2 separate regions of the Homo sapiens genome follow, and region 2 is reported to be linked to region 1. Evidence: microRNA targets listed by miRTarBase, many of them from high-throughput screens and not tested one by one. Region 1 holds a microRNA gene; the other region holds the end of a gene's coding sequence.
What was found. The annotated mature microRNA hsa-miR-3192-5p reads UCUGGGAGGUUGUAGCAGUGGAA and lies in region 1 at 2,652-2,674, opposite strand. An mRNA with a match to its seed (bases 2 to 7 or 8) in the 3' UTR can be bound and repressed. Matches are read on the target gene's strand: a 7mer-m8 pairs with bases 2 to 8, a 7mer-A1 pairs with bases 2 to 7 and ends in A, and an 8mer does both.

Region 1 (4,069 bases):
ACCACAGTGACATATTTACCAAAAGAAAGGCTTACCTTAAATAGAATGAGACAGAGCTGTGTGTACCAACATGAAAAGATGTCCAAGATACAGTAAGTGAAAAAAACAAATTGCAAAACAGAATGGATAGCATGATTCCATTTTTGTTAAAAAAAAAAGAGAAAGATTATATATAAATATATAATCATCTATGTGTATTTATATATAGCTAGAAGAAAGGATATACACTAAATTATTAAGAGCAGTTACCTCTGGGAAATGGAATATATCATAGGAGGCAGGGATGATACACAGGACAGGTTTATGTAATTTTGTATTAGCTTTATTCCCAACACATACGTTTGCAAATAATAAACATTTTCTTAAAATTAAAAAAACAAGTACTTACCCAGCATTCTGAGAGTCCTTTATTCTATATAAAAGGCCCGTATTGCTCCTTAAGAGATCCAACTGACCCTAGTTTTTAAGACAGTAGAAAACAGGAGTCAGTTATTTTGGAGATATGTTAAATCAAATGACAAATGTTGATGCATTCTTTAACATTCTTAATTTTTCAAAACCTGCTCTTTAATCTCAAAATTTTTCAAAATATCACTAACAATTTCCTGTAGGCTAGATCTTGGCTTGGTTATATGATCAATGCATAAAGAATTTTTAAAAAGCAGCTTGAGAATAACAATCTATATTAAAAATCAATATAAATCCAAATTACATATATAAAATAAAAATATAATTTATATAAATAAAAAGTTGAAATAAAGACTAAATAGGCATATTCTGTTGCACAGTGAAAAATAAAATTTATAAAGTTAATGGCTGGGCGTGGTGGCTCACACCTGTAATCTCAGCACTTTGGGAGGTCAAGGCAGGTGGTCCATTTGAGGTCAAGAGTTTGAGACCAGCCTGGCTAACATGGCGAAAACCTGTCTCTACTAAAAATACAAAAATTAGCCAGGTGCAGTGGCATGCGCCTGTAGTCCCGGCTACATGGAAGGCTGAGCTGAGATCGCACCACTGCACTCCAGCCTGGGCAACAGAGCAAGACTCCATCTTGAAAAGCAAAAAACAAACAAAACAAAAAACAAAAAAAGTTAACAGTGACATTTACTGAAGTCAGCCAATGAATAAAAGGACTAGAGTAGTATTGTTTTTATATAGCAAATCAAAAGTAAAATAAAGTATGTCTGTCATGCTCCTGAATTTCCTTGGGTCCGAACTTAAGAGAACCCAGATAATTATACCACTAGGCTCTGGAAGTACTAGAAAGCCACAGTTGAGAGGGACGCTATTCCCTTGTTTATTTATGTATTTATTTAGAGACAGAGTCTCACTCTGTCACCCAGGCTGGTGTGCCGTGGCACAATCTCGGCTCACTGCAACCTCTGCCTCCCGGGTTCATGCGATTCTCGTGCCTCAGCCTCCCAAGTAGCTAGCATTACAGGTGTATGCCACCATGCCACGCTGATATTTGTATTTTAGTAGAGATAGGGTTAGGCCATGTTGGCCAGGCTGATCTTGAACTCCTGGCCTCTAGTGATCCGCCTACCTCGGCCTCCCAAAGTGCTGGGATTACTGGCAGGAGCCACTGTGCCCAGCCCATTCCCTTGTTTTAAAACAGACACTCATGACTTGGAAATGGATTTACATACTGAATGAACAGTGACACACTCCTGTTCCCTGACCCCACGAAGTGGCAAAGTAGGACTACAAGGCCCAATCCAGAGGCTCTGGTCATTTATCCAGCTTATGAATATTTACTGAATACTTGTACTGTGCCAGGTGTTATGATAGGTGTTTGGGGGAACAACATTAATTCTAAAAGGGAAACACACAGGTGACTTCAATACCCATCTGGTTGGCATTAAGATAGAGGTAAGTAAAGCCACCCTGAACTCCCAGATTGGGTACTCGGAGAACAGGCTGCGGCCCAACCTGGGGGGGTTCAGTGACTTCCTGGAGACAATGGCAGAGTTGAGTCCTAATGCGTTAGTCATCTGTAAAGAATAAGAAGAACCTTCTAAGCAGGGGAACAACATGAGTCCTGTGGCACGAAACAGCATGATGTGGCCAGAAACCAAAAACAATCTGCTCCTCCTGAAACCTAACTTTTGAAGTAGAGTGGTGGAGATGAGGCTGGTGAACAATGCAGGGACTCAGTGTGGGAAACCCAGGAGTTTGAACTTGAATCTCCAGTATAAACAAATTGTAGGTGGTAGAGTGCCTTGGTCAGACCTGCATTTAAGACAGATCAGGGGCCAGGCTCGGTGGCTCATGACTGTAATCCCAAATCAGGCTGGCTTCTCTGAGACAGATGGAGTCATGGAAACCAGTTAAGATGCTACTGCAGCTGTCCAGGTAAAAGCCATGAGCCTGAACATGATGCAGTACCAGGGATAGAAATGGAGGGGGTGTGGACAGCAAATTTAAGAACTGTTTTTAAGAGCTAAAATCAGAAACATTACATGATTTATTAATAATCACTCCCTTTCTTAATATCCTTTGATAGCTCTACTACTGCCTGCATACAACCTATAGCCAATAGGACTCGCAGTGGGTGGGTGGTGGCAGAGGTGGTAAAAGAGAGGTGCTGAAGATGATTTTCAGTCAGAAGGAAAGAGCTGAGAGGGCGATCAGAGGAAGAAAAGAACTTTTTCCACTGCTACAACCTCCCAGAATCCCTTCCTCTGTCTTTCCTAGAGCTGAAGACCTTCACCACAGTGAAATAACTAGAAATCAGCAACATTCCTTTGTCCTTGGGCTAGAACAGGGGTGAGCAATCTGCTCCACAGCTTGTTTTTATAACCAAAGTTTTGTTGGAACATGGCTGTAGCCATTTGTTTATGTATCATCATCCATGGCTGCTTCTTGCTAAAATGACAGTGTAGTTGTGACAGAAATCATATGGCTCACAAAGCCTAAAACATATACTGTCTGGCACTTTATAGAAAAAGTTTGCCAACTCCTGAGCTAGAAAATTGATGGGAAAGGTTTAAGAAAAGATTCATCGGACCCCAAATCTCCACATCCAGAGCCCTTGGAAATCCAACAAGGCTAGTAGACTTAAAAAACAAATCAGTCATTCAGATGAGGCCTTGGCGTAGAACTCTTTAACCTAACTGCTACTAAAGCCAAACTGAAATGCTCTTAGGAAAAGGATGTTTTGGTGATGAGGGAAAGTAAGGGAGATTTAGAGCATCGGCACCACTTGGTGGGTTTTTAGACAGTCTTGCTTGTTTGTTTCTGGACAGATGGAGAATGGCTTCACTGATAAATTCCATTGCAATGTCACTGGGGGCTAAGGCTGCACTTCCTCCCCAAAGCCCAACATTCTTCATTCAACTGGACTCATTCTTGCTTCCTGAAATGCTCAGAGTGACAATGTGGAGAATGAAACCCTGATGACTGGGCTCTGTGACAACTCATAGGAAAATCGGGGGGTGGAATATTTTATGGGAAATGGCCCAACACCAGCAGTAGGAAGCAAACAGAAGGTGAGAACAGACTAGACCTATGTATGGCAGTGGCAATTAATAAATACAACAGTTATACCATAATACATTTATTTCATTTGTCTTATAACGCATAATTATTTCTTCTTTTTTCAATTCAGGTAGTTTGAGCTGTTTCCTGGTTTAGAGTCTTATCAGTCAAACCTAACACACTTTCTCGTTTTATGACTGCTGTATTAGGGTTCTCCAGAGAAAAAGAACCAATAGGATACACCTCCCTCTTGAAAGATTCATCAGAAGCTATTTGCTCTGTGATTATGGAGGCTGAGGAGTCCCATCATCTGCCCTCTGCAAGCTGGAGACCCAGGAAAGCTGGTGTTGCAGATCAAAGGGCTGAGAGCAGAGAGCTGATGGTGTAGATACCAGTCCAAGTCTGAAGGTCTGAGAACCAGGAGTGCTGAGGGCACAAGATTCATAGCCCAGCTCAAGATTGAATTCAAAGAGTGAATTCAATCTTCCTCTGCCACTTTGTTCTATTTAGGCCCTGAATGGATTGGATGATGCTCACCCAACTGGACCCATATCTACTTTACTCCGTTCACCAATTCAAAATGCTAACC
Region 2 (4,069 bases), not on the chromosome of region 1:
ACTTTGGGAGGTGGAGGAGTTCAAGACCAGTTCAAGACCTCACTTTGGGAGATCAGGAGTTCAAGACCAGCCTGGCCAACATGGTGAAACCCCATCTGTACTAAAAATACAAAAATTAGCTGAGCATGGTGGTGCACACCTGTAGTCTCAGCTACTTGGGAGGCTGAGGCAGGAGAATCGCTTGAATCTGGGAGGCAGAAGTTGCAGTGAGCCAAGATTGCGCCACACTATACTCCAGCCTGGGTGAGAGTCAGACCCCGTCTCAAAAACAACAAAAGGCCCTAGACAACACCCATCCATGGAATTCTTTCAAATTCCCTATAGCTTGTGCTATCAGTTGTTATTTAGTACCTGGCAAGATGATATTAGGGGAACTCATATTTAAGGAGTTCATGGAGACCTCCTTTTGTAAATACTGGCCTGACTCCTTAAGGTTGAAAGCTTGGTCATTATTCTGTTTAATCTATCACTGATAAAAGTTATCACATAACCCATTGTCTGCAAATGAACTATAAAAAACACCTTAGAAATACAAGGGGATTGCACTGTGACCTGTAGGTCAAAGCTAATTCTAGGTGAGAGGGTGAAGAAACAAATATGCTGGTTGTTTTCACCTAAATTCTGATCCTATGAATTTAAAATTCCTTCTCATGCAATCATTTTGTCATGGAATTGATTACAATGAACAAAATCCAAAGTGCTCAGGTCACTGCCTCTTCAGTTTAGTGCTTACACTGTAGGATACACCATCCAAGAGGCTGTAAGGGTGGCCAAGCAAAGGGAAGACAACTTCAGTTGGGGGGGTGGAAGCACAGATTCAATGGAAATAAGGGTATACATCATTTAACAACAAAATCAAGAAAATGCTAAGGATGAAACAGGGTACTCAACAATCATGCTGAAACAGGCATAAACTAGGACCACGCCAGCAAGCTAATAGGTAGATGACTCTACTTTGAATATTAAATCATATTACGAGCCAACTTTCTTAAGAAAAACCACGGATATCTAGGATTACTTGACTAGTGTAAAATACACAGTTGCCTGAAGAACTTATCTCTAAAAACTATCACAGGCCCCAGCTACCTCGCACTGGTAAGAGTATACTGCCTTTTAAAAACAATCACTATTGCCCACATTATTAGTAGTATTAATGCTATTAATAATATTGCACTCCAATGTGTCCAATAATTGCTTTTTGCTAGGTATATGCACAGCATCATGGGAGCCGGAGGGAGCTTTTACCCAACCTCATGAGGAATGAACGAAGGTAGGAATTGGCCAAGATAAGGTGGAAGAACTCCCAGATACACGGACCAAGATAAGAGCAAGGGGCAAGGGCACAGGTGACAACACAGAGCTTTTGAGAATCACAATCGGTCCACTGGTCTTCCTGCAAGGCAAGATACACCCAAGGATGAGCCCATGCCTAGGGCATAGCCAGCCTTGGAAGGCTTCAACCAGGGTAGCAGGGTAGCTAATATTTGTTTCTTATCACTGAGAGCAGAGAATAGAAATCGTAAAGCCAGTTAATCTTACATTATGTTAGGCTATTGTATTAGGCTAGGAATGGTCAAAACAATGTTATGGTAAGCCAAAACCAAACTCAGGGGAGCAAAGGAAGGGGGAGGAGTGGGGCTTGTACCCTGCTACAAACCTCTAGGCTAGGAAATGCCAAGATTGTGTGTAACTAAGTCTAGGTGAAAAACTTAATCCCTTAAGTCCCAAATACCCAACTTAGAGAGGTACAGGAAACGGCTGGTCAGCAACATCACTCCAGTGTTTTAAAAACTCAGAGTACATAAACTTGAGCTTATTTTGCCTGTTTTAGGAAATAAAGAAATATAATGGCACATAGGGATTTGAAAGAATCACAAACACATCAGAGAGATCTTATGTTAGGCTGATTTATAAGTGCTGCTTTGGGCAGTTACACAGTTTGTTTACAATGAGGAGTTATTTGACTTTGAACATACTGTACATGGCAATTAGAAGTTGTCATGGCAAAAGAAAACCACAGCTGGCCTGCCACAGCCAACACAAGAACCAGAAAATGGTAGATGAAATGAAGGAATAAAGGTGGGGTTTATTCCTTATTATAAAAGAAAAAAAATAATTCTTCAGCAGTCTTAACAAAGACATCAAGATACAAAATTACAAGTGTTTTGACTCCAGCCCTGTCCCCATCTCCTCCAAGAGCAGAGGTAGGAGACAGTTGAAGCAAACAAGCAATTCTGTAAAAATTACCTAGAAACCCTACAAATTTGATTAAAATCTAAACTTCTATAATTTTGCTTTTTAAAAAATTTAATATCAAAAGGCCTGCTTTAGTGACATGCTATTCCTACCAGAAAATAACCCCAATACCCCCTCTGTCAGTAACATGCTCAAGTTGACCAGCCAACTCTTATCTCTAAACCTATGTGGACAAGTGTGTCTTTTAAACCAAAGCCACGGAGATCAAGTGACTGCTAGTAACGTGTTGTCTGTTAACTAATCCAGTGCCCACCTTCTCCAGAGGGTGGGCAGGGCAGAAACCCAAAAGGGTCTTGAGGGCCTAATCCCAGATCACCATCTAAGAACCACTTCCCTTGCTCTCTACTCAAAATGAGATGCTTTATTTCTAATCCGACTATTTGTCTCAAATTTGGTGCCCCGTGACCTGGATGGTTTTTTCCTTTAGCAAAACACACATAATCCACAAAACCATACATATAGTTTTTTGTCTTTACATTTAAATATAAAAATACTATTCTGCTTTGTGTGATAAATCAAGGACCAAGCAGTAAGAACCTTTTCTTCTTTCAAGGTAGGGATATCCATCAGTTTATACTAAGCTTCGTGTTCAGAGCAGGGCATTTAGTCCCAAGCCAGGCTAGTCCCACAAGCAAGAGACCAAAGCCATTCTCTCTGATTCCCAACCCCTACCTTCTCTCCTAATTCCCACTTTTAATAGAAAAGTTGGTTATAACTTTTTAAGAAAAGTTTCCACCACGAGGGCAAGTCCTAACCTAACCAGAGTACGTCAGGTCTTCCCCTTTCAGCTACCTGGAAGAAGAGACCCCCTTCTGCAAACGTGCTCTGTCCGGATAGCTACGCCTATTGGACAGGTGCACCCCATTAAATGGAAGCAGTGGTTATGTCTCCCCACCCTCCTCCCCACTAATGCACTAAAAAGCTTCAGTGATAGGGAAAAAAAGGAGGGTAGGTGTGAAGAAATTAATAACTTGACCCCTCTATCCCAGCCAAACAAAGAAAGCAAGATTAACTGGGCACATGGAATGAAAAAAACGACCTTGATATTCCACCCTTTGAGTTACAATCGGGACAACTGGGAGAGGGGGAAGAGTTGGAGTGGGATGAAGAACTAGGAGGGGCTCAACAGCTGGAGGTCTAGTCCACTTAATTTTTGTACTGGAAGGGCTCATCGCCGGTTTCATTGAGAAGACACGTGCGGATGAGGGCTTCTGTCACCGAAAAGGGGTCGCAGTTGGCAGAGGGGCGACGATCTTCAAAGTAACCCTTCTTCTCCTGGCCAACAGTCCGGGGAATGCGTATGCTGGCGCTACGATTGGCTACACCAGCAGAAAAGTCGTTGATGTTGGAGGTTTCATGGAATCCAGTTAGACGTCGGGCATTGTCCAGGCCTCCCTTGGGATCATAGGCACGGATGTGGTACTGGTGCCGCTTGCTTAGTTTCTCAATGGCCTCCTCGATGTACCTAGAGTAAACAGAAAAGATGGCAGTCCAACCTTGTCTCCAGGTATGGAGCCAAGAATGAAGTGCACCAAAATATGATACCAGTAGAACAAATACTTCATGAGGGCAGTGGCTGCATCTTCTTACCTGTGTGTCTCAGTGGTGAGAACAGTGCCCGACAAGCAGTACAAAGTTACTGTTTGTTGAAAAGACTAATCATTTGAAACTTTCTCCCCCTCATAAGCATTAAGCTTATCCACATGCCTGTATTGTTACTAATTTAGTTCTAAAAGATTTTCAAATGCATGAATTTGTCAACTTTTCCCTGTCACCATGACATATGTCACAAATATATATATCGATATATATT

Region 2: the mRNA of GLUL is a reported target of hsa-miR-3192-5p. Seed matches in the 3' UTR shown: 7mer-m8 at 3,332-3,338 and 8mer at 187-194.

Annotation. Positions count from the first base shown.
Region 1 is chr20:18,469,229-18,473,297 of GRCh38, reverse strand. It overlaps MIR3192 (microRNA 3192), which reads right to left and starts at 2,683; the gene lies at 2,607-2,683. It overlaps POLR3F (RNA polymerase III subunit F), which reads right to left. Exons shown (of 9, transcript NM_006466.4): 3 at 389-456.
Region 2 is chr1:182,381,003-182,385,071 of GRCh38, forward strand. GLUL (glutamate-ammonia ligase) reads right to left here. Exons shown (of 7, transcript NM_001033044.4): 7 at 1-3,721. The coding sequence ends at 3,403. Among named protein-coding and RNA genes, the nearest start is that of GLUL, 8.8 kb to the right of the region's middle. RefSeq lists a silencer at 172-466.